4 linked regions of the Homo sapiens genome follow. The protein of the gene in region 2 interacts with the protein of the main gene of each other region in a pairwise test. Each region holds a gene or a part of one and is shown on either strand. Other genes may lie near its edges. The genes, in order: LYNX1, COQ8A, LYNX1-SLURP2 and MTIF3.

The links.
Region 1: the proteins of COQ8A (region 2) and LYNX1 interact in binary tests that used the Homo sapiens proteins (3 or more experiments, as listed by UniProt).
Region 3: the proteins of COQ8A (region 2) and LYNX1-SLURP2 interact in binary tests that used the Homo sapiens proteins (3 or more experiments, as listed by UniProt).
Region 4: the proteins of COQ8A (region 2) and MTIF3 interact in binary tests that used the Homo sapiens proteins (3 or more experiments, as listed by UniProt).

The regions. Positions count from the first base shown.
Region 1 is NC_000008.11:142,773,409-142,781,865, reverse strand, and holds the start of LYNX1 (ly-6/neurotoxin-like protein 1 precursor), read left to right. Parts: upstream 1-4,663; 5' UTR 4,664-4,760; intron 4,761-4,843; exon of another isoform or gene 4,844-4,952; intron 4,953-5,334; exon of another isoform or gene 5,335-5,422; intron 5,423-5,744; 5' UTR 5,745-5,908; coding exon 5,909-5,960; intron 5,961-6,171; coding exon 6,172-6,273; intron 6,274-6,502; coding exon 6,503-6,699; 3' UTR 6,700-8,457. Other genes in the region: LYNX1-SLURP2 protein precursor, read left to right, coding at 5,909-5,960, 6,172-6,273. UniProt on the Homo sapiens protein: Acts in different tissues through interaction to nicotinic acetylcholine receptors (nAChRs).
Region 2 is NC_000001.11:226,943,124-226,950,917, forward strand, and holds part of COQ8A (atypical kinase COQ8A, mitochondrial), read left to right. Parts: intron 1-191; exon of another isoform or gene 192-280; intron 281-6,359; exon of another isoform or gene 6,360-6,512; intron 6,513-7,794. UniProt on the Homo sapiens protein: Atypical kinase involved in the biosynthesis of coenzyme Q, also named ubiquinone, an essential lipid-soluble electron transporter for aerobic cellular respiration.
Region 3 is NC_000008.11:142,774,873-142,783,455, forward strand, and holds the start of LYNX1-SLURP2 (LYNX1-SLURP2 protein precursor), read right to left. Parts: upstream 3,001-8,583; 5' UTR 2,887-3,000; intron 2,331-2,886; exon of another isoform or gene 2,234-2,330; intron 2,151-2,233; exon of another isoform or gene 2,042-2,150; intron 1,660-2,041; exon of another isoform or gene 1,572-1,659; intron 1,250-1,571; 5' UTR 1,086-1,249; coding exon 1,034-1,085; intron 823-1,033; coding exon 721-822; intron 492-720; coding exon of another isoform or gene 295-491; exon of another isoform or gene 1-294. Other genes in the region: LYNX1 (ly-6/neurotoxin-like protein 1 precursor), read right to left, coding at 295-491, 721-822, 1,034-1,085. UniProt on the Homo sapiens protein: Acts in different tissues through interaction to nicotinic acetylcholine receptors (nAChRs).
Region 4 is NC_000013.11:27,434,798-27,441,013, reverse strand, and holds the end of MTIF3 (translation initiation factor IF-3, mitochondrial), read left to right. Parts: intron 1-564; 5' UTR 565-565; coding exon 566-1,025; intron 1,026-3,740; coding exon 3,741-3,898; intron 3,899-5,120; coding exon 5,121-5,339; 3' UTR 5,340-5,371; downstream 5,372-6,216. Other genes in the region: GTF3A (transcription factor IIIA), read right to left, coding at 5,417-5,581, 5,822-5,881, 5,980-6,209. UniProt on the Homo sapiens protein: IF-3 binds to the 28S ribosomal subunit and shifts the equilibrium between 55S ribosomes and their 39S and 28S subunits in favor of the free subunits, thus enhancing the availability of 28S subunits on which protein synthesis initiation begins.

The sequences.
Region 1 (8,457 bases), on a different chromosome or scaffold from region 2:
CAAGACTCTGTCAGGCATCTTCAGTCCCACACAGGGCCTGCAACCTTGTAGGTGTGGACAGCGCAGCTGGCCAGAGGGGGCCGACAGCCCTGCCCCCATGTCCTGAGTGCCCCTGAAGGAGGAGCTCCCTCTGCCAGAGCCCAAGCTCAGAACTTGCAGGGAGATGCTTAGGCATAGGATTGAGTGGTGGGGCCCCAAGGCACAGCCACTGAGGTTTGGCCAGCACCCAGGGGTGGGGCACTGTCCCTGTCATGGGGTGCATGGCTGACTCTCCTGGCCCATCACCGGATGCAATTTTCTCTATGCCTTAAAAATGGAAATGCTAAAAGCAGTCAAAGCACAATGTCCAGACAGAGGGCAGCTGTCAGGGAGACTGTGCAAAAGCAACTGACCAGGTCCTCTGAAAAGGGATCCTCCCTCCACCTGCTCGGAACTTCTGCTCTCCTCACCGTCCAGTCGGGCCTGAGCTCCCACCCGGCCCCCTCTGGCCAGCTGCGCTGTCCCCACCTACAAGGTTGCAGGCCCTGTGTGGGGCTGATGACGCCTGACAGCATCTTGGCTGAAAGGCCAGGTGGGAGAAAGAAAGGAGCATTATTCAGTCAGATCAGGGGGGCCCAAGAGCCTCCCTTAACGCCCAGTCTCGACAGCCAGATCCCACGGAGGGCTGGAGGGGCAGCCCCAGCCGCCCACTCCACTGGCCAGCCCCCAACTCAGAGGCAGCTAGCTTTGGTTTGCAAGAGGTCCTTTCTCTGGTCCTGCCATGGACAAGCCGGACTGGGGAGGGTTGTTGAGGTCCTCCTCCTGGAGGGGCATTCTCAAACATTGCTCTCATTGATTTTTCTCTATCTTCTTTTTCTACCTCACTTTTTTTTTTTTTTTTTTTTGCTTTTATTTTTGCTATTTTCTTCATTTTGCTTACCTTGGGTTTGATTTGCTCTTTTTGTTCTGGTTTCCGAGGGTGAAAGTTTAGGTGGTTTTTTTTGGAGAACTTCTTTCTCTTCCAAAAGAAGTTTTAGCTCTTTTTTTTCTAAAAGAAGCATTAGTGCAAAATTTCCCTCCAGGGCCCACTTCAGCTGCATCCTTTGACTTTGATGAATTGTGTTTGCATTTTCATTCAGTTGGAAATATTTTCTGATTTCCTTTTTGGTTTCTCCTTTGACCTATAAGTTGTTTAGAAATATGTTATTACTCAGTTTCTAAATATTTGATGATCTTTTAGATATATTTCTGTTATTGATTTCTAATTTAGCTCCATTGTAGTCCAAGCAAATAATCTGCATGATTTTAATCCGTATAAATTTACTGAGATTTGTTCTATGGCCCAGAATACAGTCTGCCTTGGAGGACATTATTGGTAAATAAAGGTGTGTTCCCCTTCTGTGAGGTGGAGTGTCCTACAAACATCAAGTTGGTCATGTTGACTGGTAATGTGATCCACGTCTTCATCCTTACAGACTTTTTGTCTATTTTTTATCAGTTCTCGAAAGAGGAGTGTTGAAATCTCTGTTATTGTGGATTTTCTTTTTCTCCTTTCAGTTCTATCAGATGTTGTTTGTTTTGCTTTGTGTATTTTGAAGCTTAATTGTTAGGTGCATACATATTTAGAACTGCTGAGTCCTCTTCATGAACTGATCAATTTATCATTTGGTAATGTCCCTCTTTTTAAATTTTTTTTCTTTCTTTCTAGTACAGATAGTGTTTTGCTGTTTTGCCCTGGCTGGTCTCAAACTCCTGGCCTCAAGCAATCCTCCCACCTCAGCCTCCCAAAGTGCTGGGATTGCAGATGAGAGCCACTACACCTGGCCAGTAATGCTCCTCTTTATTTCTGATTATAGTCTTTGCTTTAAACCTACTTTGATATTGACGTAGTCATGTCTGTGTTCTTTTAATTGGTGTTAGCATAGTATATCTCTCTCCATCTTTTTACTTTTATCTTATTTGTGTTTTTACATGTCTGGTGAGTTTCCCACTGACAGCATATACTTGGCTGTTTCTATTTTTATCCAATCTGACAACCTCTGTTTTTAATTGAGATGTTTTTGTTTGTTTTTGAGGCAGAGTCTCACTCACTCTGTCGCTCAGGCTGGAGTGCAGTGGCACCATCTCAGCTTACTGCAACCTCTGCCTCCCAGGTTCAAGCAATTCTCCTGCCTCAGCCTCCCAAGTAGCTGGGATTACAGGCACCCACCGCCATGCCCAGCTAATTTTTGTATTTTTTAGTAGAGAGGGAGTTTCACCATGTTGGCCAGGCTGGTCTGGAACTCCTGACTTCAAGTGATCCACCTTCCTCAGCCTTTCAAAGTGTTGGGATTACAGGTTAGGATTACAGGTGTGAGCCACCGTGCTCAGCCTGATTGAAGTGTTTAGATGACATAGTGTCATTATTGCTGTGGCTGGGTTTAAATATATGTCATCTTGCTATTTGTTTTCTATTTGTCTCATTGTTTTTTCCTTTCTCCTCTTCTGCAGTCTCTGTAACATGTGCTTTTATAAATAAATAATTCTGTATCATCACTTTTGTTGATTTATTAACTACAGTGCTTTGACTTTTGCTTTTTTCTTTGTCTTTTTTTAGTGACACTTTAGCGTCTTAGCATACACCTTTGACTTACTAGTCTACCTCCAAGAAATAGTAGGCCACTTCACATAGAGTAGAATAAATCTACAACAGTGAACTTCCATTGTCCCTCTCCTGGTCTATTTGTATTACTATTTTTTTTTAAATTTATTTGACACAGCGTCTTGCTCTATCACCCAGGCTTCAGTGCAGTAGCGTGATCACAGCTCACTGCAACCTCCACCTCCTGGGTTCAAGTGATTCTCCCACCTCAGCCTCCTGGGTGCAACCTCAGGTGTGCACCACCACACCCAGCTAATTTTTTGGTATTTTTTTTTTTTTAGAGATGAGGTCTCTCTACGTTGCCCAGCCAAGCCTGGTCTTGAACTCCTGGGCTCAAGCGATCCACTCGCCTCAGCCTCCCAAAGTGCTGGGATTACAGGCGTGAGCCGCGGTGCCCAGCCTGCACTACTATTATCATACAATTTACTTCTACATTTGCTATAAATTCCTTAATACATTGTTATTATTTTTGCTTTAGGTAATCAACTATCTTTTAACTTGATTCAAAAATAAGAAAAAAATTACCTTCTATTTCCTATTTCTGGTGTCATTTATTCCTTTGTGTAGATCCGTATTTCTGCCTGAAGAACTTCCTTTAACATAAAGGTCCCCAACCCCTGGGTCACAGACCGGTTAGGAACCACGCCACACAGCAGGAGGCGAGCGCTGGCGGGCGGGCAAGGGAAGTTTCATCCGTATTAATTCATCGTGGTCTGAGGCTGAAGACCGCGACATACTCTGGTTCTGACCTATGCGTTCCTTCCACGCCCCTTATCCCACCAGAGTGTGAGCTCCATGGGGTGGGAATATTCTGGAACGTCTGCTGGTTTTATTCTTTGCCTTCTCCCCAACTAGGACCTGGCACAGGAGGGTGCGCATTACCTCTCGGCAAACAGAACAACTAACTGGCCTAGTTTGCTGGGGACCGAAGGATTTCCTGGAACCGGAGCCCGCTTGCCCAGCAGGCATGGTGTATTCTGTACCTCAGGCCCGCAAAAATGTTTTAAAGAAAAAAATGAGCTTTAGGGTAGAAGAAAAGGTTTTATTTTTCTTTCTCACATTGGAAAAAATGAAAACTTTCGGACCCATGAAATTTTATTACATTTTGCCAAAAACAGAACCAATAACATAAGTATTCAAAGTTATGTAAAGATAATTATTTAATATGAACATTATGATGGTGAGAGGGACCACGGAGCAAGGGGCTGCCTTGCAGGCCTGCCTTCCAGCTTTGCTACAGGGACCAGAAGCGGGAGCTGAGCGCAGGGGAGGCAGGCGGAGGCCATGGGCAGCGAGGCGGGTGCGCCAAAGGGCGCCAGTTCCGGAGCTGCTGGGCCTGGGCTGCAGGAGGGCGGAGCTGGGGCCGCAAGGCTGGTGCCGGCCGACAAACGACGCGGCGCGGGCGAGTGGGCGGAGGCGGCTGCGGGGAAGGCTGGGCTGCCGCGGGACGCGGTGAAGATAGCCTGCGGAGTGTCCGGGCTGAACACGTGAGTCTGAGGGTCGCCAGGGAATCACTGCGTGGCTGCCTCTGTGTCGGAGATCCAGATGCCTGGACTGGCCTCGGGGTCCCAGCGCTTGCCCGGCGAGCCGGCGGTCCGGGGACGGGTCCGGGCCGAGGCCTGCGGTGAACTCGGCTCGGCGGGTGCCCAGGAGGCGGGTCCGGGGCGGGGCCTGCGGTGAACTCGGCTCGGCGGGTGCCCAGGAGGCGGGTCCGGGGCGGGGCCTGCGGTGAACTCGGCTCGGCGGGTGCCCAGGAGGCGGGTCCGGGGCGGGGCCTGCGGTGAACTCGGCTCGGCGGGTGCCCAGGAGGCGGGGCAGGGGCGGGGCCTGCAGTGAGCGCGGCTTGGTGAGTAGCCCAGGAGGCGGGTCCGGGGCGGGGCCTGCGGTGAGCTCGGCTCGGGGGGTTGCTCAGGAGGTGGGGCCGGGGCAGGCCTGGGGCGGGGCCTGCGGTGAGCTCGCGCTGGGCGGGCTGTTCCGGGGGCGGGACTGGGCTGGGCCTGCGGTGAGCATCAGGCGATGCGGCACGGGTGCTGCGGGACACACAGACACGCCTACGATTAGACTCAGGCAGGCACCTACCGGCGAGCGGCCGCGGGTGACTCCCAGGCGCGGCGGTACCTCACGGTGGTGAAGGTCACAGGTGAGGTCACCCTGATAGTCCCGCTCGCGCCGAGAGCCCTCCCCTCGACCTGGGACCGCAGTGTTTGGGGCGGGGCTCTCCGTGAGGGGGTTGGGAAGCTCGAAGCCGCAGGCCTGACTCTGGCCTTTGGCATCCTGGGGTTGGCCTGGGCAAATGTGTCGTGAGAGACGGATTTGTTGTTCTCGGGAAGGCGTAAGTTTAATTTAGTCCTCCAGGACGGAGACCGAGGGCCGAGTATCCCGGCAGGGGTAGGAGAGCCGTAATCCAACCCCCACCTCCCCACTGTAAACCTCTTTCCAGAGAGGGCATTCCCGTTCCAAACACCAGACCCAGCCGGGGAAATGCTTCTTCTTGTCTGGCCCAAGTGCCCTCCTGGGAGGGGCTCAAAATGCATTCCCCCCAAGCTGGGCACAGCTCATCCCTGCTGGGGAGCTTCTGCAGTGGCCGAGGACTCAGACAACCCTAACCAGGGCTCTGGAGGTCTTCTGGAAGAAGGAACCCCAAGTAGGGACACCCCAGGAGCAGAGAGGAGGGGAACAGCGAGAAGAGACCCAGCTTTTGGGCCCAGTCCTGCCATGGCCAGCCATCCGGCCCCCAGGGCCCTGCTTGGGATGGGGCTGCAGACCACCTCCCATGGGACCTCTGCACCAACCATCCCCTGGGTAAAATCCTTGTTTAGGCCTGGTATTTAAGGCCCCTCTGCCCATCCCTACTCCTTCTCTAGCACTGCCCCTCATCCTCCCCCCATCTCTCCTCCATCCAGCGCTACAGGCTGTTTTGAGCTTTTGCAGGTGCTGGTCTCTGATTGAAATGTCCTGATCTCTTCTCCCTTCTTGTCCCATCCCAAGTGTCTCCTCCTCCAGGAAACCTTCCCTGACACCCACTGAGTTAGGTGGCCCCTCTGCCCACCATCATCCCTGCCCAGGCCCCCATGGGTCCTTCAGGCCCAGTACTGACCACCTGTCTTTGCCACCTGCTGTGCAGGGTTGCAGCACTCCCAGTAGACCAGGAGCTCCGGGAGGCAGGGCCGGCCCCACGTCCTCTGCGCACCACCCTGAGTTGGATCCTCTGTGCGCCACCCCTGAGTTGGATCCAGGGCTAGCTGCTGTTGACCTCCCCACTCCCACGCTGCCCTCCTGCCTGCAGCCATGACGCCCCTGCTCACCCTGATCCTGGTGGTCCTCATGGGCTTACCTCTGGGTAAGATGGACAAAGGACAGAGGGATGGGCAGACCCACTTTGAGGGCAGATGGGCTGACAGTAGGGAAGGAGGCTAGAATTCCCAGCGACAACCCCTCCTTCTAGCCCCCTGCCCCGGGGAAGGTGACGGGCTGGGGGCCTGATGGGCTGGAGGAGGGGCCTCTCATGTTCTGTGACCCCCGTTCCCTTCCCGCCCATCTGCCAACCCCAGCCCAGGCCTTGGACTGCCACGTGTGTGCCTACAACGGAGACAACTGCTTCAACCCCATGCGCTGCCCGGCTATGGTTGCCTACTGCATGACCACGCGCACCTGTGAGTCTGGGGGCCCTGCGTGGCCCTGCCTGGGGAGCACGAAGGGGAGGTTCTGCCCTGCCCCTGAGCATGCGGGGGTCCTGAGGAAGGAGGCTCTCCTGTTCCCGGATCCTGTCTGGGAGCTCCAGGCTGAGGGGCCCTGCCCTGATGGCTGTGGATGCTGGGGTGGGGCCAGCTGGGTCTCCTGCCCCTCTTAGCGGAGCTGGCTCACCGCCCCGCCCCTCTGCAGACTACACCCCCACCAGGATGAAGGTCAGTAAGTCCTGCGTGCCCCGCTGCTTCGAGACTGTGTATGATGGCTACTCCAAGCACGCGTCCACCACCTCCTGCTGCCAGTACGACCTCTGCAACGGCACCGGCCTTGCCACCCCGGCCACCCTGGCCCTGGCCCCCATCCTCCTGGCCACCCTCTGGGGTCTCCTCTAAAGCCCCCGAGGCAGACCCACTCAAGAACAAAGCTCTCGAGACACACTGCTACACCCTCGCACCCAGCTCACCCTGCCTCACCCTCCACACTCCCTGCGACCTCCTCAGCCATGCCCAGGGTCAGGACTGTGGGCAAGAAGACACCCGACCTCCCCCAACCACCACACGACCTCACTTCGAGGCCTTGACCTTTCGATGCTGTGTGGGATCCCAAAAGTGTCCGGCTTTGATGGGCTGATCAGCCCCTCGCCTGTCCAGGGCTATTTATGGGGAGGGGCCCAGTCAGGCAGGGAGCACTGAGCAGATGGGAGCTGTGGCCAAGCCCACCTTCTGGGAAGCCCTAGGAGAGGCCCCTGCCTCAGTCTGCCCCTGGTGTGCTGGGGCAGGGGGAAGACAAGGAATGCCCGCAGGTGGGGTGGTGGGGAGACTCTTAGGAGGAAAGGCTCCTCCAGGCCTAGTCACGCTTCCTACTGAGGCCAGGAGCTGCCAGGACCGGTACGGGATCAGGGCTGTGGGAGGAGGGCCTTTGGCACCGGCCCCTGTGCTAGGAAGTCTGCCAGGCCCGAGTTGGAGCCACCCCCTGCAGGGGAGGGGGCGGCTCTGCCTCAGCAGGCCCCAGGGCCCCCGAAGTCACAGAAGCTTTTTCGGGTCCAGCAAGGGGTGTGTGTCCTCTCAGTCAAACCCCTTGACGTTTCCCACCCCCTCACGGGGAGGGCACCAGGCCTGAAGCTGGCAGGAGCTAGGGCCATGCTATATTTGGTGGGTCCTGGACGCTGACCCGGCCAGCGCTATTCTGGGCAGGGAGGGAAAGGGGCAGAGCAGGTGGTCCCCCGAGTCCTGGTCCCCAACCACAGCAGGACCCAGCCGAGCAAGGCAAAAGACGCAGGACTGGGGGATGCGCGCACAGGCTGGGGGTTGGGAGCAGCCTGGGGCCGGCGCGGGCCTGGGCGTGGGAAGGCGGAGCATGCCACCCTCTCGTGGCCGTGCGGGGGCGGGAGTGGGGAGGGTGGGGTGGGGAGGGCGGAGACCCAGCCCCTCCCCCGCAGCGGGATGCGCACAGTGAGTGGGTCCCTCCATCACCTTCCACCTGGGGATGCACCCACTGGGAGGGCAGGGTGGAAGCCCCAGCTGGGTGTGTGGACTCCCAGGGACCCCACCCCAGGCCTGGGAAGCAGGGGTCAGCCCAACACGCACCAATCCATCCCCGATGCAGGTAGCCCAGGGAGCACCTGCCCCTGCTGTGAATGGGGCATTCGGGGGCGTGAGACCTTTTGGTGCCAGCGGTCACGCTGCACCTGAGGCCCCCACCTGACCAGTGCTCCCAGCTCTGGTGTCCTGAGAAACCCTTCAAGCCATCCCGCATGGGCAGGATGGTGACATATCCATGTGGTAGGATTGTCCCGGCCCCAAAGTATGGCCCTGGTCAGGGGAGCCCCTGCTGGAAATTGCATCTCCAGAGCTTTGATGCAGGACCCCTGGGGGATCAGGGAATGAGGGTCTCCACCCCAGGGGTCTCCTTGCAGTGAGTCTATATGCAGGCCTGCGTTCTGCTCCTGGGGCTGGTTCTGAGTGCCCAGCTTCAGTCTCCTGAGAACATGAGGATGGGAGGGGGCAGAGTCTTGCTGAGGGCACACCCAGTTCCCGCTGGAGGAGGACAGTGCCAGTCTTCTGCAAAGGGACCTTGGGTGGGAACGGGCCCGGAGCGGGAGGAACGTGACTCCCCAGAGGGAAGATGGGCATCATACTGGGCCCAGAGCT
Region 2 (7,794 bases):
CAGGAAGGAAGGTCACTTCTCCTTTCTCAAAGAGAATTTTAAAGAAGGCTATTATTGGGAAGCTCAAAACTTGGCAGGATAATTTTCCAGTAAGAACCATGGACACTGAGTCATTATCTTTGTCCGTTGAAACAAGAGCTGTGTGCAAAATTAGACAGGAATATTTAGACAGAGAGTTGTCTTGATTTGACAGTGGCATCTGGAGATACTTCTGTCATTCCTGTTAAGCAACAGCCAGGAACTCGGGAGAGCCAGTGGAAAGGAGAGCTGGTGGGAGTGAGTGAGTTCGAGGGTCCTGCTCTTTCTGGAGTTGCACATATGGAGGGGTGGGAGCCCCACGGAGGTGGTTTGTGAGAAGTGAGGATGGCCCGAGTCCCCAAGGGGAGATAGAACTGAAGGCATGGATTCAAAGAAATTTATGCAGGTGGAATTTCTAGACTGACTACCTGACTGGATATATGGCTGAGATTTCTAATCAGGGGGAGGAGCTGGTTGATGGAGGAAGAGCTGGTTTGGGAGAAGGTGGTCATCTTAGTTTTAGACATGATGGGAGCCTATGGGACTTCTTTCCATCCTGTTTGATATAATTTGCATACGGTAAATTCATCCTTCTTAGTGTGCAGTTCTGCGCAGTTTGACAAACGCACATAGTCACATAACCCCTACCACAATCAAGCTATAGAACAATTTCATCACCCTCCGAAATTTCCCTGCACCCCTTTCCAGTTGCCTGTGGGTCTTTGAAGTGGTGATGCGGTATGTGTGTGTGTAACTTGGTTTGTTCTGGAAATGGGTTCGGTTGTTGAGAGGTCCTGCCTGGCCTGAGTGTGGGGAGGCATCAGTGCAGAGCCTGTGGAGGGGCTCTGGCACCCCAGGAGCCAGTGCAGATGGCAGGGAGGCAGGGGTGTCGAGGACCAGCCTGGGAACTCCCAGGCCTTGGAGTAGGTGGAGAAAGAGGAGCTGGGGGAGGAAGCTGAGGAGGTGAGGCCAGAGAGGAGGGAGGAGGGAGGGCTTCTGGGAAGAGTGTGGGGCCAGCAGGGAACACTGTGGGGCAGGGGGTGGCTGAGGAGACCCACTGGCTTGAGCCCTCAGGTGTCACAGAGGGGCAGCTTGGGGTTGGGGCCAGAAAGTGTGTGCCGAGGGAGCAGGGAAGATGGCAAGTGCACTCCATCCTTGGGAGATGGTAGCCATGTCCAGAGGGTGGAGGAGAAGCAGAGCCTATGGGAGGTTTATTTAAATGTTTGGTACAGGAGAGCAGAGAGTGGGCTTGTGGGCTTCAGGGGAGGGCTTTTATGATTGAAGGCAAAAGAAAAAAATAGGTCAGGGGCAAGGTCTTGTTGCGGGAAGGAGGAGGGATGGTCAGTGTGGGAGGAGATTGGACAGAGGCAGGGGAAGGGTCTGAGAGATGTGGCCAAGAATGTGCGGGCCCTCCTATCTGGTTGCCCCCATTTCTGGAGTAACAAAGGTCCGCTAAAGAGGGGTCGAGGCCTTCTGTTTAATGTGAGAGGGCCAGGGGTGGGGGCTTGAAGAGCCTTAGGTGCCTCAGCATCCTTTGAGGAGTTGTACCCTGAGAGAGAGAGAGAGAGAGAGAGAGAGAGAGAGAGAGAGAGAGAGAGAGAGAGAGAGTGAGAGAGAGAGAGTGAGAGAGAGAGAGTGAGAGAGAGAGAGTGTGTGTGTATGTGTAGAAGGGAGGCAGGAAGGTAGGTGTTTCCGGGTCATTTGGAAAAGCCCAGTCCCTTATCTCTCCCTACCTCTGCACCGTCCACTGGAATTTTCCATTTCCCAGAGGTGTGTTTCCTGAGAGACAGAGAGGCTGTAGCGCCCCTCTCTGCCTTTCTGAAGACAGCAGGGTTGGTCTGCCTCTTACCTCTCACTATTTCATAGAATCTCTAGAAGGATCAGTATCTGCGTTGTTTTGAGCATTACTCTTTCTAGACCCCGTTACATCCCAGCTTTCAGAACAGCCCTGTGTGTGCTCTCCTTGCTGACTTTCTGCACTCCAGGGATGCATGGCCCTTTCCTAATCTCTGGGAACTAGACCTCCTCCAGGTCAGTCGCCTCACTTACACATGAGGAAATGAGAAAACGCAGGCCCCAAGAGGAGAAGCGGTGTGCCTGAGGTCACCCGCGCTTGGTGGCCTTGCTGTTGGTCCTCCCCGTCGGCCCTCATCACAATATATGCGGTGTCATCTGGGAACTGGAGGACCTGGTGGCAAGTCCCTGCTGTTCACGGGGCTGGATGAGGGGTCCTGGGGACAGTCCACATGAAAAGAAATGTTAAAGTTCAAGCTCAGAGCCTGGGCCCCAGCCCAGTGTTTGTTCTGTGCTTGGCACATTTTTTGTTTGGCACTGATACTGGCTCAGAGGAGGGTAAAAGTAAGAGTCGATTGCCCGGTAAGCTGAAGGTGGTTACTGTTTGACACGTGCTTGAGCAAACATCTCTAATCTTCCCGAGATTGAAAAAATCCTGTGGCTCTTGCTCCCTAAGGTGTTTACAGCCAGCATGTGGTCAAGGGTTGGACATTGTGCTGCCGCGATGCCTGTTGTAGCTGCTGTTTACACCTGCTTGGTGCTCACGGTTCATGGGCCAGGGCTGATTGGCCTGCTGAGGAACAGCTGCCTGCTGGCTTCAGCCCCTCCTCTTTTCCCTCAGTCTTAGACAGGGACGGGGGTGACGCAGAGGAAGCAGTAGCAGTGACTGCGTCCCCTGCTCCCTCCCTGGGTCTGTGTGCCCACCATGAGCGGGATTATGAAGCTGGCTTGGAAACTCATCTGGCTTTTGCTCCTGTAAAAATCACTTTTTGAACAGGGTGCTGCTGCCATTTCTGTGGCTGTGCATGTTGGGGATTCAGGTTCCCCTGGTGCTCAGCCTCCTCGGTGGTCTCTTCAGTCCTGGGCTCTCGATGAGGGAGCTCAGGAAGCCACGGAGCCTGGGTGCCTGGGTCCTGCCTCACTGACTCATAATGCTAATAAACTCGTGTGTATGAGGACAGTGCCAGACCCCGTTGGGGGTACAGAACTGGGAAAGAGAGGGCCCCTCCCTCCGGAGCTTACCTTGCAGTAAGGGAAATGGGACAGGCACACACAGAGTCATACAGGGCATGGCGAGGTGACCTTAGGCCATTAAGAGATGAGGGAGTTTAGAGGAAAGGAGATGACTTGCCTATGGAGGGGTTTACCAGTCCAGCAGGGTGGCCAAGATTCCAGCAGGGGAAATGATATTCCATGGGGAGGAGGGAGCAGGATGTGGAAGCTGGAAAACCTGTGTGGGTGTTGGGCGGGGCCGGGGGTCCATTCTGGCTGAAGCGTTGGGGCACGGAGGCATCTAGCGAGAGGTATCGCTGCAGAGGTGTCTGGGGCTCCACAGTGAAGGGCCTTGCTGGCCAGGCCAGACCAGGGAGAGTGGAGATCAGCAAGGAGATGGCCACCTCTCCTGGGTCTGTGGTCCCCTTGCACCCTGCTGAGCCTCTTCTCATTTCTCGTTGCGTGTGTGGTTGTTGTCTGTCTAGGATTGCCCCTTGTCTGGGTTAACTGGGTGATTTTAAAAGCTATCGAGGTTTTACATACACATGTAGTGCCTAAGGGTTGTGTGTGACCTCAGGGCAGAACATGTTTATTTAACTTCCATACCAGTGATGTGTGCATGTCCACACCTGGCCTGTGTGTGGCATTTGGAGGTGATGCTAATAAAGGTTGGTGCTGGTGTTGAGTGTGGCAAGACTGAGGGCCGTGTGCCCGATGGCTCCTCCTAGCTCTTGCACACCCAGAGGCAGTCTTCAGTGTAGGGCGTCTGCCTCTTTCCACTATTTATGTTTAAGATCAAACTGGCTCTGGAACCAAGCTTTGCCTCTAGTGGGTAGGATCACTGGTGCTGAGAATTGTGATACCCTCAGTCCTGGCAGCTGACAAACTTTCCAGAGCAGGGAGTTTGGCCAGATGGCCTTTGAGAGCCCAGCTGGCCCCAGAATTTTTATGACTCAATTTTCTGTAACCAGGAAGACACATTTCAGGATGTAAACCTTGCTGATGTCTCATATTGAGTGACTATTGATTTAACAAAAAAGGAGTTATTGATTTGGGGCAGTGTTCTTCTCTGCTATCTCTCAGCTTCCTAGGCAGTAAGAAGAAAGGACTGGAGCCTGAGTCAGACAGGTGTGGAAGGGTCCAGCATCCCACAGCTTTGGCCCTTAGGAGATTGCTCAGCCTTGATGAGCTTTAATTATCCTATCAATGAGTGGGGATAATACCTCACCAGGTCTTTGTAAGAACTAGAGGTAATATAAAGTGACAGGCAGACAGAGGGGAATAATAAATGGTAGCTGTTCTTGTTATTATTCCTATTTCATTGAGATATTAAACCTGAAGTAAAAGTGTTTTGAAAGATTAAGAATATAAAACCGAGGCCAGGCACGGTGACTCACACCTATAATCCCAGCACTTTGGGAGGCCGAGGTGGGCAGATCACTTGAGGTCGGGGGTTCGAGACCAGCCTGAGCAACATGGTGAAACCCTGTCTCTACTAAAAATACAAACAAATTAGCCAGGTGTGGTGGTACCCACCTGTAGTCCTAGCTACTCAGGATAATCACCTGTGCCTGGGGAGGTTGAGGCTGCAGTGAGCTGTGATCATGCCACTGAATTCCAACCTAGGCAACAGTAAGACCCTGTCTCAAAAAAATATATATATATATATATCTATCTGCCTGGCATGTAGTATGGGCCCAATATAGAGAAAGTCAACAGGACTCCGTCATTAAGAACAGGAATGCACTGAGCTGTCTGTGGGGTAGTCTACCACCCAGCTTGGTGCCTCGCACTTGGTTGGCATTCAGTAGTATTTGTGGAGTGACCAAAGTTAATTTAGAAGAATGGTCTGGAAATTATTCTAGAATACAGCCCCTCTCCCCAACCCAAGGATCTGCTTTAATTTCCTATGGCTGTTGTGATAAATTACCACAAAGTTTGTGGCTCAAAGCATCATAAATGTATGATCTTACAGTTCTGGAGGTTAGAAGTCTGAAATTGGTCTCACTAGGCTAGAATCAAGGTATCAGCTGGGCTGGTTCATTTCTGGAGGCTCAAGGGCAGGACCCGACCCCTTGCCTTTTCCAGCCTAGAGGCTGCCTGCATTCCTTGGCTTGTGGCCTCTTCCTCACAATGGCATCACTCCAGCCTCACTTCTGTCTCCCATCACCTCGTTCTGACTCTGCCCTGCCTGCCTCCCTCTTATATGGGCCCTTGTGATTACATTGGGCCCACCTGGATAATCCCCCATCTCAGGATCCCTGACTTCATCATATCTGCAAAGTCCCATTTGCAGGTAACATTCACAGGTTCTGGGGATTGTGGTATGGGTATCTTTGAGACACCATTATTCAGCCTACCACAGCCACCCACAGTATTTTGGCCAGATTTAAAGACAACCCTGTAAGCGTCTGAAAGAAACGTTGAAAGAAACCCTTCAACCTCAACTTTAGGATCCTTAATTACCTTCCTGGGTGGCAGTGGTTCGTGAATTCAGTCAACGCTTGCGCTTGTAATTTGTGTGGGTGGATCACTCTGTGTGTGTGGGTGGAGTGGGAAGAGTCAGAGTTGTCTGAGACAAGAGCCTCCCACAAGGAGCTTATAGTTTGAAGAGAAGAGAGGTCCATGTGCAAGAAGAAGAGTAACTTACAATGTAGGAATCTGACCAGCAAGTTAGATCAGCTGTCAGGAGAACGTAAATATGGAAGAGCTGGGAATCAAGGGCCTGAATAGGAATACGTTCTTGAATTTATATGGTGCTTTAACACATTTCAAAGTATATCCACCCACCCCTCCATTTATATTGGACAATATAATAACTTATACCATCATTTCGAGGAGAGGAAACAGGTCAGAGATGGTTCGAGAATATGCCTGGAGCAGCCCAGCTGGTCAGGGCAGAGCTGATTCCCAGCCCCAAGGCCCCAAGGCCCTCACCCTTGGCTAATGGGTGGGTTTTCAGACGTACAGAGATGAAGGGGCGAGCGGGCCTGCCTGAGAAAGTAGGACCTGCAGAGTGGAGTGCGCTCACATGGCTCGCGCGTAGCTGGAGGCTGGAAAGGAGGCCGGGGGCCTGATTTCGATGCCTGGGACTTCAGGCGCAGGAGTTTGGGTTTTATATATATGTCTACATACATGTCTACAGGTAGAGGAGCCATTTGAGCAACGCGTTGGCATGATGAACGTGGGTTTTTTTATAGGGAGAGGAATCTGGCAGGAGAGTGTTCCATGGCTCGGAGCTGGGGAGCTTGTGGGAGTTAGAGGGGTTTTCTTCCCAACTGCCTCTCCCTGAATGTACCTGGACAAAAGCCTCCCATGCTGTTTTCTCCTTTAAGGTGAAGTGGTAAGGAATACCAGTGGACATTTGTGTCCCTGGTTTCGAAGCAGGCTGCCAGCACTTTGGACTGCCTCTCCTGAATGATGCCTCATACCACAGCACTAAATAAACCACACTGGTCCTCCCCAGCCCAGCCTTCCTCCCAACTCAGGTATGAGACTGTGCCTGGCAGGAACAACTGCGGGTTATCCAGACTGATCCCATTCACCCTAACCGTTGGTCTCACCAAGTCTGAACTTCATTCCAGAATGTCTGTGTGCTTGCAATACTACTACTAATAATAATGGCATTAGCTAATGGTTTTTAAGCACCTACTATATGTCCTGAATGCTGTTACATGGATTTATCCAGTCCTTTCAAGAACAGATGAGGAAACTGAGGCACAAAGATAAGCTCACATGACTTGATTTAGGTCACACTAGCAAGTCAGTGGCAGAGTCATGATGTGAACCCAGATCACCTAACCTCAGAGCATCTTAACCATGTCACCAGTATCACTTCCTGAGCCAAATATTTTAATTTAAATGTTTTAAGCAGTAAACTTCACTAGGTTTTTAGTCAGAAAACTAAATTGCCATCAGGACCTTGCGCTTGGCTGGTTGGCCTTTAAAAGCCTTGTGTGTCATCGGCTATATCAACTCACAGAGTGGGAGAGGCTGCTTGGGACCCTCTGTTGCCTGCCTGTGGTTGGAGCTCTGAGCCCATGCAGGTTCGCTCACAGTGTTGGGTCCTTCTCTGGACTATCATCAGAGGCTGGAACTTTGCCTTCTGCTGCTTTTATATCACCCCCAACCCTGCCCAGCTCCCAACCCAGTGCTCACCACAGGGCAACTCACCCAGGGAATCCTAAGAATATCTTAATCTTCCAATGGATGGAGAATGGAGGTTTGCAGCCTGGGACATCAAAAACACACTGTTTTGCTCTTTTTCTCCTCTTACCTGTTAAACAGGTTGCCTAGCTCCTGAGCCATGATGGATCCAGGTCCCAGCTTTACTTCTTAAAAGCTGTGTGACTTCGGGCAAATTACTTAACCACTCTGTGCCTTAGCACCCTCATCTGTAAAATGGGCATAATTTACCTTTTGAAAATGATTGAGTTAATACATCTTTGTGCTAAGTAGAACACTGAGCCCAGAGCCTGGCATATACTAAACCCAGCAAAAGCAGCTGTAGTTATCATTGGCATGGTGGGCTGGTTCTGCTGCTCACAAAATGAAAACATCTGTGAAACTGGTTTCATTCATGGGGGAGAATGTCAGTGCCTAGTTGCTTGCTTTTTTTTTTAAGAAAAAATTAGCAGTATGGGATTCAGTGCCTGCTTTCAACAAGCTCTTGTTTATGTTATTAGCACAAGAATGTATAATTTTTAAACAGTTCAAAGAAAAACCCCAGTAGTCTGGGAGCAACTTTCAAGGGAACTTGAAGTCCTTAGC
Region 3 (8,583 bases), on a different chromosome or scaffold from region 2:
CTCCCTGCCTGACTGGGCCCCTCCCCATAAATAGCCCTGGACAGGCGAGGGGCTGATCAGCCCATCAAAGCCGGACACTTTTGGGATCCCACACAGCATCGAAAGGTCAAGGCCTCGAAGTGAGGTCGTGTGGTGGTTGGGGGAGGTCGGGTGTCTTCTTGCCCACAGTCCTGACCCTGGGCATGGCTGAGGAGGTCGCAGGGAGTGTGGAGGGTGAGGCAGGGTGAGCTGGGTGCGAGGGTGTAGCAGTGTGTCTCGAGAGCTTTGTTCTTGAGTGGGTCTGCCTCGGGGGCTTTAGAGGAGACCCCAGAGGGTGGCCAGGAGGATGGGGGCCAGGGCCAGGGTGGCCGGGGTGGCAAGGCCGGTGCCGTTGCAGAGGTCGTACTGGCAGCAGGAGGTGGTGGACGCGTGCTTGGAGTAGCCATCATACACAGTCTCGAAGCAGCGGGGCACGCAGGACTTACTGACCTTCATCCTGGTGGGGGTGTAGTCTGCAGAGGGGCGGGGCGGTGAGCCAGCTCCGCTAAGAGGGGCAGGAGACCCAGCTGGCCCCACCCCAGCATCCACAGCCATCAGGGCAGGGCCCCTCAGCCTGGAGCTCCCAGACAGGATCCGGGAACAGGAGAGCCTCCTTCCTCAGGACCCCCGCATGCTCAGGGGCAGGGCAGAACCTCCCCTTCGTGCTCCCCAGGCAGGGCCACGCAGGGCCCCCAGACTCACAGGTGCGCGTGGTCATGCAGTAGGCAACCATAGCCGGGCAGCGCATGGGGTTGAAGCAGTTGTCTCCGTTGTAGGCACACACGTGGCAGTCCAAGGCCTGGGCTGGGGTTGGCAGATGGGCGGGAAGGGAACGGGGGTCACAGAACATGAGAGGCCCCTCCTCCAGCCCATCAGGCCCCCAGCCCGTCACCTTCCCCGGGGCAGGGGGCTAGAAGGAGGGGTTGTCGCTGGGAATTCTAGCCTCCTTCCCTACTGTCAGCCCATCTGCCCTCAAAGTGGGTCTGCCCATCCCTCTGTCCTTTGTCCATCTTACCCAGAGGTAAGCCCATGAGGACCACCAGGATCAGGGTGAGCAGGGGCGTCATGGCTGCAGGCAGGAGGGCAGCGTGGGAGTGGGGAGGTCAACAGCAGCTAGCCCTGGATCCAACTCAGGGGTGGCGCACAGAGGATCCAACTCAGGGTGGTGCGCAGAGGACGTGGGGCCGGCCCTGCCTCCCGGAGCTCCTGGTCTACTGGGAGTGCTGCAACCCTGCACAGCAGGTGGCAAAGACAGGTGGTCAGTACTGGGCCTGAAGGACCCATGGGGGCCTGGGCAGGGATGATGGTGGGCAGAGGGGCCACCTAACTCAGTGGGTGTCAGGGAAGGTTTCCTGGAGGAGGAGACACTTGGGATGGGACAAGAAGGGAGAAGAGATCAGGACATTTCAATCAGAGACCAGCACCTGCAAAAGCTCAAAACAGCCTGTAGCGCTGGATGGAGGAGAGATGGGGGGAGGATGAGGGGCAGTGCTAGAGAAGGAGTAGGGATGGGCAGAGGGGCCTTAAATACCAGGCCTAAACAAGGATTTTACCCAGGGGATGGTTGGTGCAGAGGTCCCATGGGAGGTGGTCTGCAGCCCCATCCCAAGCAGGGCCCTGGGGGCCGGATGGCTGGCCATGGCAGGACTGGGCCCAAAAGCTGGGTCTCTTCTCGCTGTTCCCCTCCTCTCTGCTCCTGGGGTGTCCCTACTTGGGGTTCCTTCTTCCAGAAGACCTCCAGAGCCCTGGTTAGGGTTGTCTGAGTCCTCGGCCACTGCAGAAGCTCCCCAGCAGGGATGAGCTGTGCCCAGCTTGGGGGGAATGCATTTTGAGCCCCTCCCAGGAGGGCACTTGGGCCAGACAAGAAGAAGCATTTCCCCGGCTGGGTCTGGTGTTTGGAACGGGAATGCCCTCTCTGGAAAGAGGTTTACAGTGGGGAGGTGGGGGTTGGATTACGGCTCTCCTACCCCTGCCGGGATACTCGGCCCTCGGTCTCCGTCCTGGAGGACTAAATTAAACTTACGCCTTCCCGAGAACAACAAATCCGTCTCTCACGACACATTTGCCCAGGCCAACCCCAGGATGCCAAAGGCCAGAGTCAGGCCTGCGGCTTCGAGCTTCCCAACCCCCTCACGGAGAGCCCCGCCCCAAACACTGCGGTCCCAGGTCGAGGGGAGGGCTCTCGGCGCGAGCGGGACTATCAGGGTGACCTCACCTGTGACCTTCACCACCGTGAGGTACCGCCGCGCCTGGGAGTCACCCGCGGCCGCTCGCCGGTAGGTGCCTGCCTGAGTCTAATCGTAGGCGTGTCTGTGTGTCCCGCAGCACCCGTGCCGCATCGCCTGATGCTCACCGCAGGCCCAGCCCAGTCCCGCCCCCGGAACAGCCCGCCCAGCGCGAGCTCACCGCAGGCCCCGCCCCAGGCCTGCCCCGGCCCCACCTCCTGAGCAACCCCCCGAGCCGAGCTCACCGCAGGCCCCGCCCCGGACCCGCCTCCTGGGCTACTCACCAAGCCGCGCTCACTGCAGGCCCCGCCCCTGCCCCGCCTCCTGGGCACCCGCCGAGCCGAGTTCACCGCAGGCCCCGCCCCGGACCCGCCTCCTGGGCACCCGCCGAGCCGAGTTCACCGCAGGCCCCGCCCCGGACCCGCCTCCTGGGCACCCGCCGAGCCGAGTTCACCGCAGGCCCCGCCCCGGACCCGCCTCCTGGGCACCCGCCGAGCCGAGTTCACCGCAGGCCTCGGCCCGGACCCGTCCCCGGACCGCCGGCTCGCCGGGCAAGCGCTGGGACCCCGAGGCCAGTCCAGGCATCTGGATCTCCGACACAGAGGCAGCCACGCAGTGATTCCCTGGCGACCCTCAGACTCACGTGTTCAGCCCGGACACTCCGCAGGCTATCTTCACCGCGTCCCGCGGCAGCCCAGCCTTCCCCGCAGCCGCCTCCGCCCACTCGCCCGCGCCGCGTCGTTTGTCGGCCGGCACCAGCCTTGCGGCCCCAGCTCCGCCCTCCTGCAGCCCAGGCCCAGCAGCTCCGGAACTGGCGCCCTTTGGCGCACCCGCCTCGCTGCCCATGGCCTCCGCCTGCCTCCCCTGCGCTCAGCTCCCGCTTCTGGTCCCTGTAGCAAAGCTGGAAGGCAGGCCTGCAAGGCAGCCCCTTGCTCCGTGGTCCCTCTCACCATCATAATGTTCATATTAAATAATTATCTTTACATAACTTTGAATACTTATGTTATTGGTTCTGTTTTTGGCAAAATGTAATAAAATTTCATGGGTCCGAAAGTTTTCATTTTTTCCAATGTGAGAAAGAAAAATAAAACCTTTTCTTCTACCCTAAAGCTCATTTTTTTCTTTAAAACATTTTTGCGGGCCTGAGGTACAGAATACACCATGCCTGCTGGGCAAGCGGGCTCCGGTTCCAGGAAATCCTTCGGTCCCCAGCAAACTAGGCCAGTTAGTTGTTCTGTTTGCCGAGAGGTAATGCGCACCCTCCTGTGCCAGGTCCTAGTTGGGGAGAAGGCAAAGAATAAAACCAGCAGACGTTCCAGAATATTCCCACCCCATGGAGCTCACACTCTGGTGGGATAAGGGGCGTGGAAGGAACGCATAGGTCAGAACCAGAGTATGTCGCGGTCTTCAGCCTCAGACCACGATGAATTAATACGGATGAAACTTCCCTTGCCCGCCCGCCAGCGCTCGCCTCCTGCTGTGTGGCGTGGTTCCTAACCGGTCTGTGACCCAGGGGTTGGGGACCTTTATGTTAAAGGAAGTTCTTCAGGCAGAAATACGGATCTACACAAAGGAATAAATGACACCAGAAATAGGAAATAGAAGGTAATTTTTTTCTTATTTTTGAATCAAGTTAAAAGATAGTTGATTACCTAAAGCAAAAATAATAACAATGTATTAAGGAATTTATAGCAAATGTAGAAGTAAATTGTATGATAATAGTAGTGCAGGCTGGGCACCGCGGCTCACGCCTGTAATCCCAGCACTTTGGGAGGCTGAGGCGAGTGGATCGCTTGAGCCCAGGAGTTCAAGACCAGGCTTGGCTGGGCAACGTAGAGAGACCTCATCTCTAAAAAAAAAAAAATACCAAAAAATTAGCTGGGTGTGGTGGTGCACACCTGAGGTTGCACCCAGGAGGCTGAGGTGGGAGAATCACTTGAACCCAGGAGGTGGAGGTTGCAGTGAGCTGTGATCACGCTACTGCACTGAAGCCTGGGTGATAGAGCAAGACGCTGTGTCAAATAAATTTAAAAAAAAATAGTAATACAAATAGACCAGGAGAGGGACAATGGAAGTTCACTGTTGTAGATTTATTCTACTCTATGTGAAGTGGCCTACTATTTCTTGGAGGTAGACTAGTAAGTCAAAGGTGTATGCTAAGACGCTAAAGTGTCACTAAAAAAAGACAAAGAAAAAAGCAAAAGTCAAAGCACTGTAGTTAATAAATCAACAAAAGTGATGATACAGAATTATTTATTTATAAAAGCACATGTTACAGAGACTGCAGAAGAGGAGAAAGGAAAAAACAATGAGACAAATAGAAAACAAATAGCAAGATGACATATATTTAAACCCAGCCACAGCAATAATGACACTATGTCATCTAAACACTTCAATCAGGCTGAGCACGGTGGCTCACACCTGTAATCCTAACCTGTAATCCCAACACTTTGAAAGGCTGAGGAAGGTGGATCACTTGAAGTCAGGAGTTCCAGACCAGCCTGGCCAACATGGTGAAACTCCCTCTCTACTAAAAAATACAAAAATTAGCTGGGCATGGCGGTGGGTGCCTGTAATCCCAGCTACTTGGGAGGCTGAGGCAGGAGAATTGCTTGAACCTGGGAGGCAGAGGTTGCAGTAAGCTGAGATGGTGCCACTGCACTCCAGCCTGAGCGACAGAGTGAGTGAGACTCTGCCTCAAAAACAAACAAAAACATCTCAATTAAAAACAGAGGTTGTCAGATTGGATAAAAATAGAAACAGCCAAGTATATGCTGTCAGTGGGAAACTCACCAGACATGTAAAAACACAAATAAGATAAAAGTAAAAAGATGGAGAGAGATATACTATGCTAACACCAATTAAAAGAACACAGACATGACTACGTCAATATCAAAGTAGGTTTAAAGCAAAGACTATAATCAGAAATAAAGAGGAGCATTACTGGCCAGGTGTAGTGGCTCTCATCTGCAATCCCAGCACTTTGGGAGGCTGAGGTGGGAGGATTGCTTGAGGCCAGGAGTTTGAGACCAGCCAGGGCAAAACAGCAAAACACTATCTGTACTAGAAAGAAAGAAAAAAAATTTAAAAAGAGGGACATTACCAAATGATAAATTGATCAGTTCATGAAGAGGACTCAGCAGTTCTAAATATGTATGCACCTAACAATTAAGCTTCAAAATACACAAAGCAAAACAAACAACATCTGATAGAACTGAAAGGAGAAAAAGAAAATCCACAATAACAGAGATTTCAACACTCCTCTTTCGAGAACTGATAAAAAATAGACAAAAAGTCTGTAAGGATGAAGACGTGGATCACATTACCAGTCAACATGACCAACTTGATGTTTGTAGGACACTCCACCTCACAGAAGGGGAACACACCTTTATTTACCAATAATGTCCTCCAAGGCAGACTGTATTCTGGGCCATAGAACAAATCTCAGTAAATTTATACGGATTAAAATCATGCAGATTATTTGCTTGGACTACAATGGAGCTAAATTAGAAATCAATAACAGAAATATATCTAAAAGATCATCAAATATTTAGAAACTGAGTAATAACATATTTCTAAACAACTTATAGGTCAAAGGAGAAACCAAAAAGGAAATCAGAAAATATTTCCAACTGAATGAAAATGCAAACACAATTCATCAAAGTCAAAGGATGCAGCTGAAGTGGGCCCTGGAGGGAAATTTTGCACTAATGCTTCTTTTAGAAAAAAAAGAGCTAAAACTTCTTTTGGAAGAGAAAGAAGTTCTCCAAAAAAAACCACCTAAACTTTCACCCTCGGAAACCAGAACAAAAAGAGCAAATCAAACCCAAGGTAAGCAAAATGAAGAAAATAGCAAAAATAAAAGCAAAAAAAAAAAAAAAAAAAAGTGAGGTAGAAAAAGAAGATAGAGAAAAATCAATGAGAGCAATGTTTGAGAATGCCCCTCCAGGAGGAGGACCTCAACAACCCTCCCCAGTCCGGCTTGTCCATGGCAGGACCAGAGAAAGGACCTCTTGCAAACCAAAGCTAGCTGCCTCTGAGTTGGGGGCTGGCCAGTGGAGTGGGCGGCTGGGGCTGCCCCTCCAGCCCTCCGTGGGATCTGGCTGTCGAGACTGGGCGTTAAGGGAGGCTCTTGGGCCCCCCTGATCTGACTGAATAATGCTCCTTTCTTTCTCCCACCTGGCCTTTCAGCCAAGATGCTGTCAGGCGTCATCAGCCCCACACAGGGCCTGCAACCTTGTAGGTGGGGACAGCGCAGCTGGCCAGAGGGGGCCGGGTGGGAGCTCAGGCCCGACTGGACGGTGAGGAGAGCAGAAGTTCCGAGCAGGTGGAGGGAGGATCCCTTTTCAGAGGACCTGGTCAGTTGCTTTTGCACAGTCTCCCTGACAGCTGCCCTCTGTCTGGACATTGTGCTTTGACTGCTTTTAGCATTTCCATTTTTAAGGCATAGAGAAAATTGCATCCGGTGATGGGCCAGGAGAGTCAGCCATGCACCCCATGACAGGGACAGTGCCCCACCCCTGGGTGCTGGCCAAACCTCAGTGGCTGTGCCTTGGGGCCCCACCACTCAATCCTATGCCTAAGCATCTCCCTGCAAGTTCTGAGCTTGGGCTCTGGCAGAGGGAGCTCCTCCTTCAGGGGCACTCAGGACATGGGGGCAGGGCTGTCGGCCCCCTCTGGCCAGCTGCGCTGTCCACACCTACAAGGTTGCAGGCCCTGTGTGGGACTGAAGATGCCTGACAGAGTCTTGGCTGGGGCTGGGGCTGGGGTCAGGTTGTGTCCAGGACAGTTGAGGAGCTGTCCAGCAGGGTCACAGAGAAGCAGCCTGGAGGCTGGGAGACTGAGCTAGGGACCCCTGGAGGCACAGGGCAGAGGGCAGTGATGGGCTATGAGCTGTGACTGTCCTTGGGCTTGGTCTGGAGTCCTGCCAGCTCCCAGGCCCCATTGCAGCCACATGGGCAGCCTAGCCCTCTCTGGATCCTGCAGGTTCGCTCCCACTCCTGGGCCTTTGCCCAGGGCCCGCACGCAGCCTCATCCATGCTGCCTTCGTTGTCCCTGTACCTGCTGCTGCTTTGCAGTCTTCCCTGACCCACCAGCAGAACTCCCTCTTCCTTCATTCCTGGAGTTTGGTGGCCACAGCCCCCGTTTCCTGCCTTTCAGGGGTGGGAGTGGTAGGGGAGGTGGCATTCCCGCCTGCCTCCAGGCTGCACTGGACACAGAGCACTCCCGTTCCCTGGGCCCTGGATGAGGATTCCTGCAGCCAGCCTGCCGTGAAGTGGCAGGAGTCACTTTCCCTTGCCCAGCCTTAGTTTCCCCATACGGAAGTGGGGATGGGTGGGCCTGCGGCCTAGGCACTCCTACCCCTCTGCTCTCTGCCCGACTCCCATGCCCAGGTGCCTTCGCACACCCTGCCCTGGGCGCTTGGCAGGCCTCAGGCCACCTGTCCAGAGTGGAGTGGAAAAGGGCACAGATGGGGCCATGAGCGGCACTGGCCTGGGCGAAGGCGGATTTTCCCTGTGCAGGAGCCCCGGCACCCGGCTCTCCGGTGGCCACCAGAGGGCGCTCATACTCAGACCTCCAGGAGCACTCGCAGGCCCCTCCCACATGCCAGCACTCAGGGGAGAAGGGGCGCCCTCACCCCTTCACCCTGGGTCATGTCCCTGAGACTGGGGTTCAAGAGCCTCCAGAGAGGCCGGCTTGGAACACCCCAGGCCCAACCCCAGCCTCGGAGCCATGTGGACACTGACTACCCACAGCCACCACCCAGGGCAAGTCCAGCTGCCTGGGCCCATCCCCATCCATGGGAACCCAGCAGCCCCTTGGCCAGACCTCACCAGGGTGAAGCTGGACTGGAGGGGGCGGGGAGCATGACGCAGGGAATATGGGCCAGGTGAGGTCGCCCAGAGGCAGGGAGGGTTCCGCACCCACTGCGTGGGTTCTGGTATTTCGGGGATGAGGCTGTGACGTGGAGTGAGATGAGGCCCCCGGCAGATGCCCCAGCAAGGGGCCCTTCCCCTTCTGGAGAGGGCCAGAGGCTCCTGCAGGCTGACCCCACGCCCCCGGCATGGGAAGTCTCAGGCCTCACCTGGGTCAGAGCAGAGCTCTGCCTTCCCCCAGGGCAGCTCCCTCACAGGTCTGGCCTGGAAAACTTATGGTGACCGAGCCCCCTCCGGCCCCGGCCAGCAGACAGTGGTGTAGCATGGGTGGCAGCTGGTGAGGGGTCAGTGGTGCTCCCTGGCCCTGGGTCCAGGCACTCAGCTCTTTGTCCCACGCACCATGAGACCAGCAGCATTACCACCCCCAGTTCCAGCCAAGGGCAGGAGCACTAGGTGGGGTCTGA
Region 4 (6,216 bases), on a different chromosome or scaffold from region 2:
AATATATTTTCTCTTCTTTATGATTTTCTTAATGACATTTCTTTTCTCTAGCTTGCTGTATTGTAAGAATACAGTATATAATACATATGGCATACAAAATATGTGTTAATCAACTGCTTATGTTATTCATAAGGCTTTCAGTCAACAGTAAGCTATTAGTAAGTTTTTGAGGAGTCAAAGTTATACACAGATTTTCAACTGCACAGGGGGTCTGTTTCCCTAACTCCCAAGTTGTTCAGGGGTCAACTAAGTAGTCAAATGAGATCATGTGTACAGAAAAAAAAAAAAAGTGAAACCAAAATGCTATGTAAATCTGGTTTATTCTAATAGCCACTTGTCTTGGGGACAGTATCACCATGAGTTAGTCTGGCCAGAGTCACCTGCTAGTCCGCTTTATCAGTGTAGACTTCCTGTGTGTGGATCTGAAAGTCTAGAGAACAGCATTTCCCTCACACTTGCAGTTACAGCCTCCACAACCTCACACACACCCTGCCATGTACCACAATGTCAGACCAAGGGAATAAGTGATTGAATTTTAATGAACTCTTCTTACTACTTTCTTAGGATGGCTGCTCTTTTTCTAAAGAGGTTAACACTACAAACTGTAAAGTCTGAAAATAGTTGCATTAGATGTTTTGGTAAACACATCCTGCAAAAGACAGCACCAGCACAGTTGTCCCCTATTGCTTCTGCCCCAAGACTCTCCTTCCTAATTCATGCAAAAGCCTTTAGTACCGCTGAAGACACCCAGAATGAAGGAAAAAAGACAAAAAAGAATAAAACAGCTTTTAGTAACGTTGGAAGAAAAATTAGTCAGCGAGTTATTCACTTATTTGATGAGAAGGGCAATGATTTGGGAAACATGCACCGAGCAAATGTGATTAGACTTATGGATGAGCGAGACCTGCGACTGGTTCAAAGGAACACCAGCACAGAACCTGCAGAGTATCAGCTCATGACAGGATTGCAGATCCTCCAGGAGCGGCAGAGGCTGAGGGAGATGGAGAAGGCGAACCCCAAAACTGGTAGGTATTTTGCTGTTGGCTCCCTGAATCCTTTAAGAGCTACAAATCAGCAGTTTAAATTCTAGCATTTGTCAAGGTGCCTGTGACAAGAGGGAAATGAGAAACTAGAAAATTCATGATTCAACCACCATTCCCAGTGTCTGTCTTTCCTCCTTTATCCTGCACTTACTCCTGTTCCCTTTTTTTCACTGTTTTTCCACAATACCCTGCCCATTATCTCTTCCCTTTAAACCTGTGTAAAATGTGGGAGAAACCAGGCAAACAAACCAAAGTGAAGAGAACTCTTTCCCCTGTCCTGTGGCCTTCTCCCAATGCCGCAGCAAGCTGAGTAGCCGATGGGGTGAAACAGAGTGAGATTAGGAGGGGTACATTCAAGTTCCCTGCCCTCTGCCGGGCCACTCATTTAACCTCCCTCCTTTTGTTTTTCTTCCCCTTCTTCAACTCTAAAGTGGAGGTGTTTGGTTAATTATCTGGAAGCACCTTTTTATTTTTTTGAGATGAGTCTCTGCCTGCCGCCCAGGCTGGAGTGCAGTGGTGCGATGTGTGCTCACTGCAACCTTCGCCTCCCAGGCTCAAGCGATTCTCCTGCCTTAGCCTCCCCAGTGGCTGGGATTACAGGCGCCCGCCACCACGCCCGGCTAATTTTTGTATTTTTAATAGAGAGGGGGTTTCACCATGTTGGCCAGGCTGGTCTTGAACTCCTGGCCTTAAGTGATCTGCCCTCCTCGGCCTCCCAAAGTGCTGGGATTACAGGCGTGATCCACTGCGCCTAGCCTGGAAGCACCTTTTCGACTCTGAAGTGATTCACAGAGCATCTCCCATGCCAAAGCATTGTGTTGCAATATCAGTAGCAACACTCTTAGATATACAACCAGTCACTTGACGAGGCACTTGTCATTTAAGCCTCACAGAAGTCAGGAATTGGATATTAAGCAAAGATGTTTGTTTTTCATAGTTCCTAAAAAGTGCCAATCATTATGAAAGTTCAATGGATGGCGCACGGGGACAGGCATCAGATGACTGCTCCCAGCACTGCATCGTGAGGTTGTGTGCCTTCAGAAAACCACATGTTATCTGCGGCTCAGTTTTGTAATGCCACATTTAACAAGGATGTTGACTGGAAAACAATATTCAGAAGAGACCAACCAGGGAGGATAATGACGTCAAACTATGTCACTTAAAAAAAAAAAGGTCACTGGGCGTGGTGGCTCACGTCTGTAATCCCAGCACTTTGGGAGGCCAAGGCAGGTGGATGGCTTGAGCTCAGGAATTCAATACCAGCCTGGGCAATATAGCAAAACCCCATCTCTACAAAAAATTTTAAAATTAGCAAGGTGTAGTGGTGCAAACCTGTGATCCCAGCTACTTGGGAGGCTGAGGTGGGAGGATCACTTGAGCCTAGGAGGCAAAGGCTGCAGTGAAGAACCATGATCATGCCACTGCACTTCAGCCTGGGTGACAGAGCGAGACCCTGTGTTTAAAAAAAAAAAAAAAAAAAAAAAAAACAGTCTTGCTCTGTTGCCCAGGCTGGAGTGCTGTGGTGTGATTTCGGCTCACTGCAGCCTCCATCTCCTGGGATCCAGCAATCCTCCCACCTCTGCCTCCCACACAGCTGGGACCACAGGTGCACACCACCATGCCTGGCCTTTTTTTTTTTTTTTTTTTTTTGTAGAGATGGGGTCTCGCTATGTTGCTCAGGTCTTGAACTCCTGAGCTCCAACGATCTGCCTGCTTCAGCCTCCCAAAGTGCTGGGATTATAGGCGTGAGCCAGCACACCTGGCCCCCAATCTTTATGATGAACCCTGGTGCATACTCTAGGGTCTATGAACCTAAATGGATCAAACTGCTCAGCAGCAGTGTATGCAGTTTCTCTACCTCCTCCCTCATTTGTCATTTTAATGGTGAGAAATTAATGTGTATTTCACTTTTTTCTTCTGTGAATTGCGTGTTTATATTCCTTTATTTTTCTACGTAGATGGTTTTTCTCCGATTTATAGGGTTCTCTGTTGTGTATGATGGAAAAAACCGTATCCCAGTTAGATTTTTCATTTTGCCTTTTTTTCTTAATGAGTTCCATCCCCTATCCTGAGATCACAAACCATTCTGTCTTTTCTTCTGTTTGTTTTAAAGTTGTATTTTTCACCTGTAGAACATTAGTATACCTGGGGAGACCTAACTTTTTGTCATCTATAAACTTCTCAATTGTCCCAACACCTTTATTGAGTGGCCGGTTCCTTCTCTATAATTTTCCAGTAGGCAGGATTTCTGGAGACAGAGGGCATGAACACAGGATGTAGGGACCCTTACCTGTCCAACAGTCTGGCTGACCCCTTATAGCAAGGAGAGCATCTCAAAAGGAGTGGGTAGTGCACTCCCAGATGCCAACCCACAGCTGATAGATAAGGATGTTAAGTGCACCATGAAGCCAAACTTGATCCTTTAAACGACTATCTTTTGGTGTTCTTTCAACAAACGATGGTTAACAATAAATGGAAGCATTTCAGATTTTAAGTACCCTTCCAGGGCAGGTAAAAAATTGGTACCTTTATGTGTATCTTCCCCATTTGAAAAGACATTTACTGGTCTGTGAAACTGAAAGCCAGATGAGAAGATTGTCAGGTGGCAACCTAGGATTTTATGATGGGCATGTTGGGAAGTTCAGGGTTCACAGTGGACTAGTCAGTAGTCCTTGCACCCTATCTGTTTCAAACCAGGACCAACCCTGAGAAAGGAACTGATTTTGTCTTCAAATATTGGACAACATGATTTGGACACAAAGACTAAACAGATTCAGCAGTGGATTAAGAAAAAACACCTAGTCCAGATTACCATAAAGAAAGGAAAAAATGTAGACGTGTCAGAAAATGAAATGGTAAGTAAAGAAGGTACAAGCCACTGCTTGTGCTTTGGGTCTTCTGATCTAAAAATACAATTGTAGGCCAGGCGCGGTGGCTCACGCCTGTAATCCCAGCATTTTGGGAGGCCAAGGTGGGCGGATCACGAGATCAGGAGATTGAGACCAACCTGGCTAACATGGTGAAACCCCGTCTCTACTAAAAATACAAAAAATTAGCCAGGCGTGGTGGCGGGCACCTGTAGTCCCAGCTACTGGGGAAGCTGAGGCAGGAGAATGGCGTGAACCCGGGAGGCGGAGCTTGCAGTGAGCCGAGATCGCGCCACTGCACTCCAGCCTGGGTGACAGAGCAAGACTCCGTCTCAAAAAAAAAAAAAAAAAAAAAAAATTGTAGAAAATCTGAAATATAAAGACAAAGTGACTGGTAATTCTTCCACCCAGTGATGTTAACAGCTTTCTAGTTTGCTTTTCAAAACTAAGCATACTGTAGATATAGTTTCCATTACAGCGTATTTTGCCATATGAACACATTATTCCTTAAAAGCAATATACTATTGTTTTATAAATTGTAGAATAACCCTTAAACAGGAAAATTAGAAACTTTATAGATTTTTTGTTTCTTCTTTGTACTTATAGGGGCATTAATTACGTAGACTGTCTTCTAGAAAGTGTGTAGTTTCCAATCCCATAAGTTTATGGAATACCTATTTTGCTTTTTTTTTTTAAAAGTTAGATAACTTTATCATCCACTAAGGGTATCCTTAGTAATCCAGCTCCACAGTAGAGTCACTTAAGCATAGGTCGCAACCCAGCTGATGCAGAATTTCTTGAGCCCAGGTATCCATTTGTTTCAGTCACTGAGAGAGACTCTGTTAGGGGCAATAGAGAGTGCTGAGAACTGCTCGGCTGACACCTTGGGGATGAGGAGGTATTTTGCCAATGCCCAAACCCAGTGCTTTCTGTTTGTGGGAGAGGGTAATGCTGAGCCAAACGTAGCCTCTTCGTGCCATGACGAAGTGGAGATTTAAAATTAGGAAGCATTCAGCATGTCAGTTTAGTTACATGGTGTTATTGTACAGATTTCAGTCAACTTAACCAGATACGTATGAACTGATTAGCTAATCACTTAACCGACAGCAGCAATTCAAGGGTGCCAGTTTTTGTGAATGTTCAAGCAGAACATTAGAAAGCACCAAAGCCTCTGATTTTAAATTAATCTTTGGCTGTTTCCCTTTTTTAGGAGGAGATATTTCATCAAATACTCCAGACTATGCCTGGAATAGCTACATTCTCATCTAGGCCACAAGCTGTTCAAGGAGGAAAAGCTTTAATGTGTGTTCTTCGTGCTTTCAGCAAAAATGAGGAGAAGGCATATAAAGAAACTCAAGAGACCCAGGAAAGAGACACTTTGAACAAAGACCATGGAAATGATAAGGAATCAAATGTTCTGCATCAGTAATTTTAATAAAGAAAAGCATGCTCTGAGAGAAAGCTCGCTCCTTGGTCTGCAGTCCTTTAAACAAAGCAGTGCAGTTCTTAGCCAAGGGTAAGTACTGCAACTGTCGAGAGCATCTTGTCTTCCACACAGTTGGGTGACTCTCCGTTTTGACACAAAGATAAGCCTTGCCCTTGTTTCCTTTTGGGAGGGATATATCCACTGAGATGAGAGGCCAAACTCCGTTTTTCACGAGATTTTTTGACCTTTGGGAATAAGGAAGACACACGATTAGAATTCAAAATCAAAACTGTCTGAGTTAATTTTACGATAGTCATATGTACCAGCAGATATAGTGTACAACATTGCTTTATGAGGAAGTAAAGTCTTCAACAGTAGTGCAGACTCAAACAGTAAAGCAGGTGAAAAGAATTCCAAACAGACTCCTTCTGGCCTTAAACAATTTCCACTTGAAAACTAAGCTTGCCTAAGTAGTTTCAACTTACTTTGAGCTTCATTTTCTTCTTGTCAGGATCATGTACAACAGCATGCCTAGTGAGACTTTGCTACAATGAAAGAGAAAGTTATTAATGAAATATTAATATGAAAACCATGTTGTGAAAGCATAGACTATAGGACCATGAGTATGAGGGTGAGTGCTTACTTTCATTGCAAATGTTTTGCCACAGCCAGCATGTTCACACACAAAAGGGCGGCTTTCCTCATGGAAGGAGAGGATATGGCTTTGGAGATTAAACACAGTTGTATAGGTTCTTCCACAGCCTTCTCTTGGACAGCGACATACATCCCTTTCTGGGGCATGAGTTTTCATGTGTTGCTTAAGGTAATCTTTGCGTTTAAATGTTTTCCGGCATACTTCACATAGTATTTCCTCTGGTGG